Linked DNA regions of Homo sapiens. The protein of the gene in region 4 purifies or fractionates together with the protein of the main gene of each other region. This does not show direct contact. Each region holds a gene or a part of one and is shown on either strand. Other genes may lie near its edges.

Evidence for each region.
Region 1: the proteins of FBXO21 (region 4) and NUP98 purify together in Homo sapiens (co-immunoprecipitation; one study listed by IntAct). This does not show direct contact.
Region 2: the proteins of FBXO21 (region 4) and VEGFD purify together in Homo sapiens (co-immunoprecipitation; one large-scale study listed by IntAct). This does not show direct contact.
Region 3: the proteins of FBXO21 (region 4) and HHIPL1 purify together in Homo sapiens (co-immunoprecipitation; one large-scale study listed by IntAct). This does not show direct contact.

The regions. Positions count from the first base shown.
Region 1 is NC_000011.10:3,675,555-3,679,054, reverse strand, and holds part of NUP98 (nuclear pore complex protein Nup98-Nup96 isoform 1 precursor), read left to right. Parts: intron 1-2,434; coding exon 2,435-2,546; intron 2,547-2,678; coding exon 2,679-2,896; 3' UTR 2,897-3,500. UniProt on the Homo sapiens protein: Plays a role in the nuclear pore complex (NPC) assembly and/or maintenance. NUP98 and NUP96 are involved in the bidirectional transport across the NPC. May anchor NUP153 and TPR to the NPC.
Region 2 is NC_000023.11:15,381,614-15,385,900, forward strand, and holds the start of VEGFD (vascular endothelial growth factor D preproprotein), read right to left. Parts: upstream 2,801-4,287; 5' UTR 2,334-2,800; coding exon 2,244-2,333; intron 1-2,243. Other genes in the region: PIR (pirin), read right to left, coding at 3,391-3,503. UniProt on the Homo sapiens protein: Growth factor active in angiogenesis, lymphangiogenesis and endothelial cell growth, stimulating their proliferation and migration and also has effects on the permeability of blood vessels.
Region 3 is NC_000014.9:99,651,629-99,655,128, reverse strand, and holds part of HHIPL1 (HHIP-like protein 1 isoform a precursor), read right to left. Parts: intron 2,906-3,500; coding exon 2,259-2,905; intron 1-2,258.
Region 4 is NC_000012.12:117,173,471-117,176,970, forward strand, and holds part of FBXO21 (F-box only protein 21), read right to left. Parts: intron 1,328-3,500; coding exon 1,181-1,327; intron 872-1,180; coding exon 735-871; intron 1-734. UniProt on the Homo sapiens protein: Substrate-recognition component of the SCF (SKP1-CUL1-F-box protein)-type E3 ubiquitin ligase complex.

The sequences.
Region 1 (3,500 bases), on a different chromosome or scaffold from region 4:
GCCTCCCAGTCTTAAGTGAGTCTCATGCCCCAGCCTCCCAAGTAGCTGGGAGTATAGGGTGTGTGCCACCACACGCAGCTAACTTTTGTATTTTTAGTAGAGATAGTGTTTCACCACATTGGCCAGGCTGGTCTTGAATTCCTGGCCTCAAGTGATCGGCCCACCTTGGCCTCCCAAATTGCTGGGATTACAGGCATGAGCTTACCGCACGCCTGCACGCAGCCTTAAGGTCAGTCTTTGTAGTCGTAAAATGAGTCTCCACTGCTTGCTTATGGTGCAAAAACCAAACTCATTATAATAAATATAGGATTCAAGTCCTTTTAGAGGCTTTTACCTTTCCTGCCTTACTCCTACCACTCTTATTCCACGTTCCAGCCTTGCTAGCCTGCTGTACTCACACTAAATTACTTCTGGTGTTTCTAACAAACCATATTATGTTCCACACTACCTAGCACACTTAAACTCATCCTTTTAAGATCTAGGTTGCTGTTACCCCTACTTCTCTCTGCTTTTCCCCAGAGATAATTAATTGCACTTTCTTACTACCAAGATACTTAGTACATTATTCTACTAGTGCACCTGTCAGACCATATTGTAGTTACTTATTCATATTTTCAGGTTGCTATAAGCCCCTTTTGGGAAGGTCTTTTACGGTTACAGGCAATAGAGTGTAGAGGTTAACAGCTCAAGTTCTGGAAGCAGACTTATAGATTCAATTTGTGGCTTCCAAATTCACTGGCTATGTAATCTTGAGCAAGTTAACTACCTCTCTCGTCTGAAAGAAAAAGGTGGGTGGGGTAGACAGTAGTACAGATTATAGTTCATATTGACAGATTTTCACAAAGATTAAACAAAATCTACATGAAGTGTTTTACATAGTACCTTTCATGTACTAAATGCCTTTTTTTTTTTTTTTTTAGGCAGAGTTTTACTCTGTCACCCAGGCTGGAGGGCAGTGGCACAATCTCAGCTCACTGCATCTCCCAGCTTCAAACAATTCTCCTGCCTCAGCCTCCCCAGTAGCTGGGATTACAGGCGTGTGCCACCACACCCAGCTTTGTGTGTGTGTGTGTGTATTTTAGTAGAGACGGGGTTTCACCATGTTGGCCAGGCTGGTCTCAAACTCCTGACCTCGGCCTCTACTAAATGCTTAATAATTGTTATCTATTATTATCCTCATCAAAGTTCCAACTCCTAGTACAGTGCCTGGCACATAATAGACATAATTCAATGTTTGCTGTACTTTTAGTATGAATCAAGAACATCATTTCTAAATAATCACTTGAAGAAACCACTTTCTCATTGAATATTGAGTAATTCATTCACACAACCTATTATGGAGAACTCACTGTATGCCAAGCACTGTAGTGGGTTTGGGGAATATAAAGGTAAACAGTATGTGTTCTGCCCTTACCAAAATAATGATTTTGTGGGGGAGATACATACAAGTAAAGCAGCAATTACTATAGCTTGATAAGTATAGGGATTAAGCAAAGGGTACTATCAATGTGCCAGCACATAGCTGGATGTGGTGGTGCATGACTGTAATCCTAGTACTTTGGGAGGCTGAGGCAGGAGGATTGCTTGAGACCAGCCTGAGCAACATAACGAGACCCCCCTTCTCCCAAAAAAAAAAAAAAAAAACCTATGTTACATAAAAACTCTCTAGTATTATCTTGTTCTGCTTCTTCTCCTTACCCTACATGTCACCATGTAAATCTCCTTTGAATTCCCACCTTTGGGGGTTTTAGCTGTCTTCTCTTTGCCTGGAAAGCTGAGCTCTCTCCTTGTTATTCAGGTCTCAATTTAAATATGACCTCCTTAAAGAAGCCTCTCTTGGTCCTCCAGTCTCAAGTAGCTATCCAGTTTCTCTCTGCCACATCCACCTGTTTAAATTATCTACATGGCTTGTGATTTTTCAGGATTTATTACTGTTTTGTGTTTTCTTATTTATTTTCTATCAGTTTCATGAGAGCAAATAACCTGTCTTGCTCTTGATCCTCCTGCCCCCTGCACACAGCTTTTTTGGTGTTTTAGAAAAGGCTATAAACTTGGAGTCAGGGGACCTAAATTAAATGTTGGTTCTGGCTGCATTTTTTACTTCCTTGTGTGCTCTTTAGAAGTCATACCATCTCTCTGAACCCAATTTATCTTGATTTTTGGTGCTGTGTTATTAAAGCTTGCTGTATAGTTCGGGATCTCAAGACTTTTCCTAGTCCAAGGCTAGGTAACTGTGTTACCTTCCTCTTGGCTATTACTGCATAATTAGTGCCTTGTCCTCCACTAGATGGTGGTGGCTTGGCCCTGTGTCATCATCTTGGATTTTCCCCTCCCTCACCTCACTGTTGTTTCAAGGTTTTGTGTAGAGTCTATAGGTGGGATTGGAGTGATAGGAACTCCCCTTGGATTAATTGGCTTCTCTGCTTCTTTGTAGGTGGATTGCTCAGGTAATGACCTGGAGCAGTTACACATCAAAGTGACTTCACTGTGCAGTCGGATAGAGCAGATTCAGTGTTACAGTGCTAAAGATCGCCTGGCTCAGTCAGGTAAGCCTCTAACCTCCTCACTCTTTCTGCCTTCTTGCTTCCTGTTTTTATGATTATTACACCCCACCCTCAGTGCCTACCACCCTTCTCCAGACCCCATGCTCAGTGCTTGACTCTAGTTTTTCTCTCTAGACATGGCCAAACGTGTAGCCAACCTGCTGCGCGTGGTGCTGAGTCTGCATCATCCTCCTGATAGAACCTCCGACTCAACACCAGACCCTCAGCGAGTCCCTTTGCGCCTCTTGGCTCCCCACATTGGCCGGCTTCCCATGCCTGAGGACTATGCCATGGACGAACTGCGCAGCCTTACCCAGTCCTATCTGCGAGAACTGGCTGTTGGGAGCCTGTGAGCCCCAGGCACTTTGCATCACAGTCACATGCCCATTCACACCACACAGAGGTTCCCTGCCTTGTTTGGATTGGCACTGTTTGCCATTCTCTGGGTTGGCTGTGGCATCTACCCTCCCTCCCTGCTGCCAGAAGCAGCATCCTCCACTTGTTCAGGGCTTTTCTTAATACTGAACGTAGCATAAGGGCTTCTGGAACCCAGAAGAGGAGACAGTTTACCATCCTCAAGATCATTCAGTGTTTTTCCTTTAAAAAAATGGTCAATAAAGCTCCTTTGGCAGAATCCCCCAAAGAACCAGGGTATTCTTTTTCCATCCCTAGCCATTCTGGATCTTGTGACCCTCCATGCCAACCAGCTTCCCTACTCCTACCCTGGCCCTTTTATACTAGGACTCCTTAGGAGGAGTGAGACAGGTGATAATGGATCCTTAACAGATGAACTATCCACAGAAGGAAGAGGGATCCGTCTCTTAAGTAATTGGTTAGTTAACACTGAATTTTGGAGGCAAAGGAGGGTTGGCCTGAGTTAGGAAACAAAATGGGATCTTTCTGACACACTTAGGGCAGAAGTGAATGCCTGTCACGGAGGGATTGATCTTCAGGGCT
Region 2 (4,287 bases), on a different chromosome or scaffold from region 4:
AACAAGAAGAACTTTAACATTTAGAAACATTATTTCCTCTTAGATTTTCTTTTCTTAAAAGTTGGGGAAAAAAGAAAACTATAACCAATATTATATATCTCATTATCCCTTACCACTCAGTCATATCTATGCCAAAACTTCTGTTTAGCTATAGGCAATCCTTTCCTTCATATCAGAAATAATTTAATTGAGCGAGGGGTAGGGTGGATATAAGTTCAGTATATGTAGCTTCACTTTTTAAAGGAAATTCTGATATATTCTGAAAAAAAATTGCTAATCGTATTAGTAAGTATATAATGCTGCATCCTCCACGTGTAACAACTTGTTTTCTGTCACATGCAAATTCAGCTGCTTTCCTTCGTTACTCCATTCAACAAATTTATATATTAACAGTACATTCAAAGCATTTAAAACTTCACAGTGCCAGCCGGGCGCGGTGGCTCACGCCTGTAATCCCAGCACTATGGGAGGCCAAGGCGGGCAGATCATCAGGTCAGGAGATCGAGACCATCCTGGCTAACACAGTGAAACCCTGTCTCTACTAAAAATACAAAAAATTAGCCCGGCATGGTGGCACGTGCCTATAATTCCAGCTACTCGAGAGGCTGAGGCAGGGGAATCACTTGAACCCGGGAGGCAGAGGTTGCAGCGAGCTGAGATTGCATCACTACACTCCAGCCTGGGTGACAGAGTGAGACTCCGTCTCAAATAAATAAATAAATAAATAAATAAAACTTCACAGTGCCCAGGACACCTGAGACATTCTTGGTGCTTGTGCTCTTTGAAAGAGCTGAGCAACCTAAAGAATATGACTTATGTCCAACAATTCAGTCTCCTTTATTATACCATCAGATAAAGTGATGTTTTACAAGGAAAATGGAAATATTTTAAAACTCGAGGAGCCCAGCACATCTAAAGGATTTCTGTTTCATGAACTTACGAAAAAGCTGGACAGTCGGAAAAGTCTTACTTGCTTCAAACAAGTCAGACCGTTTTCTCCTGTTACCTATGCTTACAGTCAGATTCCCATTTACCTACAATCTGGCCTTGAGATCCAATATCAAGGCTGGTGGCAGTAAAATGGAGCCAAACACTGTGATTTCTCCCATGTAAATTTGGAATTTGAGAAGTTAGAAAAGTGCTGGCTGCCAGACAAGGTGACTTCCCACTCACCTCCAGCTCAGTGTTCAACATTTTTAAATATCAGCCCCCACCCTCGCCAGGCCACCAACACCAGCCAGGAGCCTTTGAAGACACTTTCCCCCTATGCAATTTGAATGTATAACGTATTTTAAACTACATACCATATGTACTGTATGTACGTCTGTGCGTGATGTATCAAAAGGGTAAAACTTTTTCATCCCTCCACGAACCAATTTTCCCCTGCTGGGGGCGATATCACCCCTGTTGAAAATGCACGTCCTAAACAACAGCTACAAAAACTCAAACTCACATTTAATTGTCTTTTCAAGGCCAGAAGTTCCTAAATCAATAATGATTTAGCACCACTTCAGTCAAAACAATTACATCCGAATCATTTTCAAAATAGAAGCTTAAAATATATATAATCCATGAAATGCATAAAATTGGGCTAAGTATTGTTCCAGCAGTCAGCAACATTCTGGTTAATTTTTTGCATTACTCTCTGTTCGTTAAGCTCTATTTGATGCTTGCTCACAGAACCAAAGATTTGATTAGTGTTGAATTTTACACCTTTCAAGAAGCGAAAAAACCAAACACTCTCTGAGAAAACATTTTTCTGGATGGCAGCAATTGGTAATTTGCAAAAGCAGATAGAAAATGTTCATAGAAAGCACTGCAATTTTCAATTTACCAAACGAATAAACTAACCTCTGCTGCTCACAAAGACCTGAAAATAAATGGCCCACAAAGTTATCAGTCATAAAAACAAATCAATGTTTCATTAAAAAACCACTGTGCCATCTGCATATGCAACCGAGGAGAAACTTCTCCATCCAAAAAGATTCCAGACTGCTCATGTTCTACCATAACTTCAAAAAACAACCAACCCCCACCCCAGCATTTTCAAATACTCATGGCCAGAAGTTTAATAAGACTAAGAAACAGAACAGTCACCAAGAAATGCAGGATATATCCTGTCCAGTCCACTACTAGGATGGTTCTGCATTTTTATATTGTTTCAAAAATAGTGAGGGCAAAGAAAGTCCTCTGTATGAGCCAATAAAAAGAACTTCATCACATTAAAAATTGAGCTCACCTACCTTCACTGGTCCATGTTCATTACTGGAGCCCTGCACCAGCTGGACGTACAACATCATGAAAACATTCACCACTACCCACTCTCTGTACATTTTGAATATTTCAATATCCACTGATTACTAAGCAGTTGACATCAGGCAGCTAGAGAAAATTGTTTCAAAAGGCATTCTCCAGAAGGAAAGTTTGAAACCTCAAAACTTCACACAGAAAACCAAATAATCAGTTCTGATCAAAATCCAATGAAATTATTTCAATTAGGCAAGGTACGCTTTTTTTGCACAATCTTAGGGGTGGGGAGAGAGAGATGAAAAAAATCAAAATGTTCTCCAAAAATAATCAGAAGGTGGACATGTCTTCTACCTGAAATTAGAAAGCACTCTAAATTTACTTCATGTCCAGAAAATTAAAAAAATCTCTCCAATGTATGCCGCAGGTTCTAGTTGCTTTGTAAGGAGGTGGTGTGGCCACCAATGCTTACAGCTACAGAAAGCTGGAACCCAACTCTGGATTGAAACTTTTTTGCACAACCTTCATGGAAGCTTGCAGAAGCATGTGTCTTAAATCTGACACAGATTTTGGCAGAAAATGCAGAGAAGTCTTGGCTGTAATCCTGTTGCGTCCCTACCAATAGCAGGGCAGTTTTAAGAACTGACTCAAATGTTCAGGGCTGCCGTTATTTTAAAGCAGATAACCTGTAACATGAAACCCCAGCACATAGCTTTGACCTTTGTATCTCAGTGGGATTGCTTAAGAAGGGACCTCAGATGCTCATGCATCTGCTGCCAATGACACACAGAAAGCAATCAAATATGATTTTTAAAACCTGCACATGCACAAAAATAATAAAAACATCCATCCATACATGCAAAAAAAGGCAAACATACACAAAACGACTTTTTAAACAGAAGCTTAGTAACTTAGGTATCTCAAATGAAAAACACTGATTTTTAAAGAAACAATGATTAGGTTTATTTGCATGTGCCAGGAAATATCCTACATTTATTGTTACAAAAACCATGTTATCACGTTAGTGTGGAATTCTTTAGAAGCACCGGCTAAATAAGCTTTAGAAATGGAATGCCTTCAATGGCTCAATCTCAGAAATGGCAAAATTCTAGGACACATCAAGACCTGCTCTTCCGCTTTCCACTAGTTCCCAATCTTTGATTTCCAGGTTTTGGCCCTTTCAAACCCATTTTTTGCGTTTCTGAAATCAAGAATAGCTTGAGAAATCTCTTCATTGGTGTTCATCACAAATGGACCTAGGGCAGAAAGAGACATTCAGAAAGTTCTGGGTGGCAATATTTTCCTCTACCACTAGAAATGATATATATTTCTGTAGTTCTTAATTTAAAACAAAATCCAAGCACATCCGAAGAGTAAAAGTTTATTTTCACAGTGTTCAATCCCCAAGGACTGTAAGATGAGTTTCTTGACTAGGATTGTATATGATTATTGATTATAAAGACGAAACTTCAGATAAATGCAATGGCATCTCACCCATTCAGTATAGGTTTCTCACCAGCAATGGTGATCTTTTTTATTAAAAAGAGTCTTAGATTTGGTTCTATTACAACCAATTTTGTAGTTATTTTTATAACATTAGCTGATGTCAAGAATTGAACCCATCTGATACAAAGAACTGACAAATCTTATCATAGCTTTGGTGTCTAAGCAGCATATAAGGCTGTATACTTATTTGAGGATTCTAAGTCATTTTTTGAAAATCAGCAGCACCTATTGACAATAAACAGAAGATTATAAAAATTTCAAGTCGAAGAGCATCATTTTTTAAAAGTTTTCTAGGGGTTGGCAAATGTTTGCTAGGAAGGGCTAGATAGTATGTATTTTAGATTTTGTGGGTCAAACAGTGTCTGTCTCAACTACTCAACTCTTTCATCAAAGTGCAAAAGCAGCCATAGATAATGCAAAAGTGAATAGGTATGGCTGTGTCCCAATAAAACTTCATTTACAAAAACATGCAGTGGGCAGATGTAGCCCATCGACCATAGTTTGCTGACCCTTTTGTCTAATTGCTGGGTCTGA
Region 3 (3,500 bases), on a different chromosome or scaffold from region 4:
ATCTCAGCTCTGGGAGGAGAGACTGACAGCGGATTCAGGCAAGGATAACCACTCATTCCTGGCCTGCCCTGAGCCTGCTGTGCCTACCTTTCCCCAACAGTGAGTCAAGTTCTAGGCTTGACTTTGTGAGGTCACCAGAGGACCTTTGCTGAGCCCCCACTCTGAAATATGTTCATCTGTGTATTTTGTGTTCCACCTCAAGTCTTTATCAGGAATCCATTTTTAAAAGTCACCACTGAAGACACATCCATTCTGTCCCTCCATCTCCCCTCTGTCAGATCCATGTGATAAACTTGGTCTCTCTTGGAGAACTGGCTGTACAGGCTCCTGTAAGATCTGATAATTATGTTTCCTCCTTTCACTCTGGCTGCCAGGAAGCTCATAGTCAAAACTAATGCTGTGAATCATAAAGCTTCACATTAGCCTTCATAGCTAACATATTTGATTTCTCCTCCTTTTTATACATTCGGTGTCAAGATTTTACAGTTTTATCAAACACACAATGTGCTGTTCTTTGCCAATTTGCCCTCACACCCAGTCCTGGCCCTCCCCCTACCTCCTCTCTACTGCAGGGGGTCAGCTCCTATGAACGACATTTCCCAGGCTTCTTAGATAGCTGGCCTCCAGCGAGGTTCAGCCAGTGGACAGCATTGGCAGGAGCCTGGAGAGGGAGGAGCACTGGGGTTTTTCCCCTTCTCTGCTTTAAGCAGCTTCTTGGCAACAGCTGCTCCTTCTCTCGGCTCCACCTCCTCCTGCCCAGGCCAATTATGGCTCCAGCTTCCACTGGGTGTCCCCAGCTCCAGGGCGCCAGTAACCCCATCTTCTCACTTTGTCCTCCCGGCCCAAGGGGTAGAGGCAGCTTCCTCCAGTTTTTAACCTCAGAGTCGCTGCCTTCCCCAGGTTGCCTTTTTTCTTTTTTCTTTTTTTTTTTTTTTTTTTTGAGACAGAGTCTTGCTCTGTCATCCAGGCTGCAGTGCAGTGGCAGGATCTTGGTTCACTGCAACCTCTGCCTCCTGGGTTCAAGACATTCTCCTGCCTCAGCCTCCCGGGTAGCTGGGATTACAGATAACCACTACCACACCCAGATAGTTTTTGTGTTTTTAGTAGAGACAGGGTTTCGCCATGTTGGCCAGGCTGGTCTTGAACTCCTGACCTCAAGTGATCCACCTGCCTCAGCCTCTCAAAGTGCTGAGATTACTGGCGTGAGCCACTGCGTCTGAGCCCTTTTATCATTTCTAACACATGAGTAACTGACTCCCAGGATCAAATTCTACCTATTGAGTTACCTGTTACAGGGTTTATTTCCTACTGGACTTAGACTGATACATGTGCCCCACGTGCAAGGTCAGGTCAGACCCATTTTGAAAACAGTTGGGGCATAAATCATCCACAGAGTGCAGGCTCTGCAGGCCTTGTTGAGAGGAGCAAAAGCCCAGAGGCAGGAACAGATGAACTTCAGGGCAGGAAGGAGAGCAAGTTCCCTGAGGCAGGGGATTCAGGTGGGAAAAAGGACCCAGTGGGGCTCAAGAATGGCACCTTCGGCCGAGGCGGGCAGATTGCCTGAGCTCAGGAGTTCAAGACCAGCCTGCGCAACACAGTGGAACCCTGTCTCCACTGAAATACAAAAAATTAGCCAGGTGTGGTGGTGTGTGCCTGTAGTCCCAGTTACTCAGGAGGCTGAGGCAGGAGATTTGCTTGAACCCGGGAGGCGGAGGTTGCAGTGAGCTGCGATTGTGCCACTGCACTCCAGCCTCGGCAACAGAGTGAGACTCCATCTCAAAAAACAAAACAAAACAAAAAAGATGGCACCTTCAGGCCAGAGCGAGGCAGGCTGGGGCAGAGGGCGGGCTTTGGAGACAACAGATCAGGGTTCCAGCTCTGACCCTCCCTCCCCGTGTGACCCAACACTTCACCTTTCTAAGCCTCCACTTTCTTATCTGTAAAATGGGAAAAATAATACTAGCCTCAGTGGGTTTTAGGAGAATCAAATGAAATGAAGCATCTAAAGTGCCTGAAATAAGAGTTGGTGGAGAAATGTCAGGCCTCACAGGCCAGATGGAGGGGTTTGGATATGATGCCTGTGTGAGGTCTGTTCTGTAAAACTGTCCTTCTCCAGGCCCCAAAGCATGAAATTCAGCACCCCCACCAGGTGTGTTAAATATTCACAATATGTGAGAACAGGATACCAACTGGTCCTGTCACACCAGTGCATATGGGTGCCTGCCCCCACCCAGGCCCGGGTTCCCCAAGGAAGCCACCTCTCAGAGCTGTGGTCCACGGCGTTCTCGTCATCCTCGGAGACTCTGAACTCGCTGATGCGGATCCACTCACTGCTGCGGATACCCACTGAGTAGTAGACGTAGAGCCTGCGGTTGTGCTGGAAGCTGGGGTGGAAGGCAATGCCCAGGAAGCCACGCTCGTCACCCTCCCAGGGCGAGGTGAGCACCACCCGGCTGATGTTCAGGAAAGGCTTCCCCAGCCTCGAGCGGTCGGGCAGGTAGGCCCACACCAGCCCCACCTGCTCGGCCACGAAGAAGCGGTGGGTGCCATCCCTGGCATGGACCATGGCCACGGGGTTGCGCAGCCCGTTGGCCACCTCCTCCAGGCACAGCTGCAGGCAGCCCTTGGCATCGGCTACCACGTGGCCCAGGTTTGAGTTGAGGTTCTTGTTGACCAGCAGGTAAGGGAAGCAGTAGTCCGTGTCATCCAGGGACAGGTAGCGGCAGAACCTGGCAAGGTTGCCCTCCAGCGCCCAGAGCTCCTGGTCAGTTGACAGGTGACGGAACAGCCCCCGGCACTTATGCCACATGTCCAGGCAGTAATCCTGGCAGAGCCCGGGCACCGTGCGCAGGGGCGTGAATGGGTCCTCGGCGTCATAGAGGTGGGCTGCATACGGCGAGCATTCCTGCAGAGACAGTAATGGCTCAGAGATGTTTTGTGGAGGTGCTTACCAGCCCAAGGTTACCTTGGGCGGGTCCCCCATCTCTCAGAGCCTCAGTCTGCTGATCCATAAAATGGAGACAACGCCATCTGCCTGTTACCACGATAAGCCTCAGTGACAGTAGCAAACCTTAGGTCTTAATGTTTGTGTTGTTGTTAGAACACTATTACTACTCCTATTAATAGCAGCAGCAACAGCAGCAGCTACTCTGGAGCACCTGCCGTATGCCAGGAAGAGTCTGAGGCACTGTCACCCACCCTCTCTGTGTTAACAGTGCGCCTCCGCCCCTACATCAGCACAGCTCACTGCTGCACTTAACTTGGGTTCCTGCCCAAGGCTCACCTCCGATCCTCCCTGACCACCCCGTCCGCACCCTCTAGTACCTTCCGGCCTCTATCTGTTGAAAAACAGTAAAACACGAAGTGCTCTCTAACTTGGCTCTGCCCATGGACAGCTCCATCATCAGCTCCTGCCTCTCCCCACCTCTCCAGCCTCCTGTCTACCTTCCATCTCCTGATACTCTGATATGGCTTGGATCTGTGTCCCTACCCAAATCTCG
Region 4 (3,500 bases):
GACAGGGCAACAAACTAAATATGAAAATGGAACTAGGCAGAAAGCAAATAAAAAATAAATATAACAGATGCAAACTTGACACAGCTGGGCCACAGGTTCTCCCAAATGGCTAGAGGCCAGTGCAAAGAGGACCCTGATTAGTTTTACAGTTTAGTGTTCACAAGATACAAACTGACCAAACAGAGTCAGAGAAATATCTATTTTTAGTCAAAAATTTATCTCAAGGGTTTGCATATGGAGGATACTCCATGAGGAAACAGATAAACTCCACAACAATATCCTTACAGCAGAAGGAAAAATAAGTTTCATCGAGCACTCAGAGATGGAAGGCATAGTACTGACCTTCAAGAATGTACGGTCCATCAGAGAGAAGCTTAAAAAAATACATATAGGATGGGCACAGTGGCTCACACCTATAATCCCAGCGCTTTGGGAGGCCAAGGCAGGAGGATCACTTGAGGCCAGGAGTTTGAGACCAGGCTGGGCAACATAGCAAGACCTCATTTCTACAAAAAATAAAAAATTAGCCGGGTGTGGTGGCATGTAGTCCTAGCTACTCAGGAGGGTGCGGCGGCAAGATCGCCTGAGCCCAGGAGTTTGAGGTTGCGGTAAGCTATGATCGCGCCACTGCATTCCAGCCTGAGCAACAGAGCGAGACCCTGTCTCTAAAAACAGAAAAAAAAAGTTACTATACCTATATTACTATACCCATATATTACTGTACCTATATTTACCTGATGCATATATAAGTTGAGGGCATTATAGTAATCCATTCGATTCCCCTTGAACTTCAGTTGGTCGTAAAGGACATAGTTCATGGCATCCAGCACCTGGCTCTGGAGTTCTATTTCCATTATCATGGATGATTCACCTGAAACACAGAGATCTACTCTGGGACCCAAGCACAAAAAAGGTTGTGACAGGTGCCCCAAACAACTCACAACATGAAGACATTGGCAATGGCCTAACAATATTAATCAAGTGTTGCCAATCTAGGAAGCAGAAGGCAGTATGTATTTGAAGTGTTTTAGGTTCAACACTTCAACCAGGTAAACACGTGGTCACGTCATTTTATCACTTTTTCATGACATAATGGCAGCACACTAACAAATCTCTCAAATTAACCAATTCCTCTAGATTTTCTTTCATAAATACAGCTGGATCCAAAGCAATGCCACACCTGCCTTGAAGGCCAAGCTGGGGTGGCGACTGTTTATGCCCCGAAGGGTTTTGCAAACAAGCTCCACGATGCTGTCAATTTGGGCCTGGATGTCTTTGAGGCTGATGTCGGAGAGAGGATTGCAGTACTGGTCAATATATACAGCACCTGAAAATGAACAAGAATTACCGAATAAATTCTCACGTTACCCTTTTCTTATTAGTTTGCAATTTTACCCTGGACATCCTGGGACATGGCTCTTTACACCATCCCACTGGACAAGCTTCATGTTTTGGCCATGGACCTTGCTGCTAACACACTGAGAAGGAGCAACAAACATTTTCATAACAAAGTAGCTTTAACTTTAAAAAAAAAAATACATAAATCAAACTTCTCTCAGAAGTCATGGACTAAAAAACTGCGTGGTATATGGCGCAGTTTCATGTTCTATTACAAAGAGAAGTAAATGACATCAAGGAGATCTTTTCAAGCTACTTCTCTCTCCCTAGCTGTTATAGGTTCCAAATCCAACAACTCTGAAAACTTAATGGTATAAGGCAGTTCCTTTAAAAAAACAAAACAACAAAAAAAAACAACTTGAAAGCCCTCCATGACAGATGTGCCATTTCAACAAATTACACATCTCAAGGGTGAACAGTAAATGGATTCTGGAGCTAACCCCACTTTCCAATGAGATAAACAGTTATGCTCGGGGAACCTACAGCTGAAAAGCTGTGCAGAGCACACTGCAGACAGTCTCTTAAGAATCACTCCTCTTCACAGTCTTAGGTAATTTTGGAAGCAGAGACTGAAGGGCTAACAGCATCATTTGGGTAAGGACACCGTTATGTGGGAAGCTCTCGAGTCACCTTAAATTAAAGAGATCTCAGACCAGCTCAGAACCTGGACTCCCTTACCAATGCTCCAGAGCTCAAAGCAGTTGAACGGGTGTCAAGACACCTCGACCCCAGTCCCAGTGTTGCCACCAGCCAGGGACTGTCTCCTCGGCCTCCGAGGGCCCCAGCTTCCCTACCTGGAAGCTGAAGCAGTTTATGCTGCACATTTCTGAAGTCCGTTCCTTCCTAATGCTATGATTCCCAGACTTCTTCGATGGCATCAGCATTATTCCAGTCAGTCACCAAGGATCAGAAACTTGGAGAGCCAACTGTCATTCACTCAACTACTAAACAACTTCCAATGGCTTCTCAATGCTTATGACACTGATGTGGAAGTTCTTTGAAAATTATAACTTTGTATTTAGAAAATGAAAAAGGAGTATTTGTTTTCATACATAAGCTACAAAAAAATATACTATTCTTAACTGTGAAATAAACAGAAGATAGGATGCTTCTCAACTCCAGTATACAAATGAGGGGATTCTAGCAGTGAGAATTTATTTTAATCAACTGAAACAGATGTTTCATTTCCTTTTGGATGATACTAGGTTTTCATACACTTGATAAACATTTACACTAAGCATTGTGAGGTATACAGTGATCCTAACACAAGGACCACAACACGGGAAGCTTAGGGACTAGTTACAGAAACAAATGTATACACAGGAAACAGAAAAAATGCAAGACAGCTTACTATTAAATGCTACTGTAGCTCTGAGGTGAGTAAAATCTCCAAGTAGTCAGTGGAAATTTAATGGAAGTGAGGCTTGAGCTGAATTATGGAGGGGGAGTAGGATTTTCAAGAGGGATTATGAGAAGGAGGGATATCATGAATGAGGAAGTGAAGCCAGGTGTATTTGTGGGGCACCAGTCTAGACAATGGCCTGGCTGGAGCAAATGGGACATCCTGGAGAGTACGGAGCAAAGGTCTGGACCAGATTATGCAGGGCATTGAAAAGCAGGTAGAGGTTAAATATAAAAGGGAAATCAGTTGTCCACATTGCAGGTTTCACATGCAGTGGTGAAGGCTAGATTTCTAATGGGGCTGGCACTGGTATTTTGGCTGACTTGGAGGGAAGGGGGGGTAATGTTCATGAAAGCAAGTATTACTCAGAAAGTTGTTGCCAGGAGAGGTGGCCATAGACTGCATGAGACTAGTTACAGAAGCCAGCCAGGTGTGGTGGCACTTGAGCACGGGAGTTTGAATCTAGCATAGGTGACATAGCAAGACCCCGTCTCTAAAAATAAATACATTTTTTTTAAAAAAAGGAATAGTAACAGAATGGGAACATGACTATGAGATACACTGGAATGGAAAAAAAAATCAACAATCTGGTAAAACATCAGAAGTAGGGAATAAAAGTAAACGACCAGTCATATTTGTATTTCATAACCATAATTTATGGGAATGTTTGTGTAATATTGTAGGAATTCAAAATCATTTT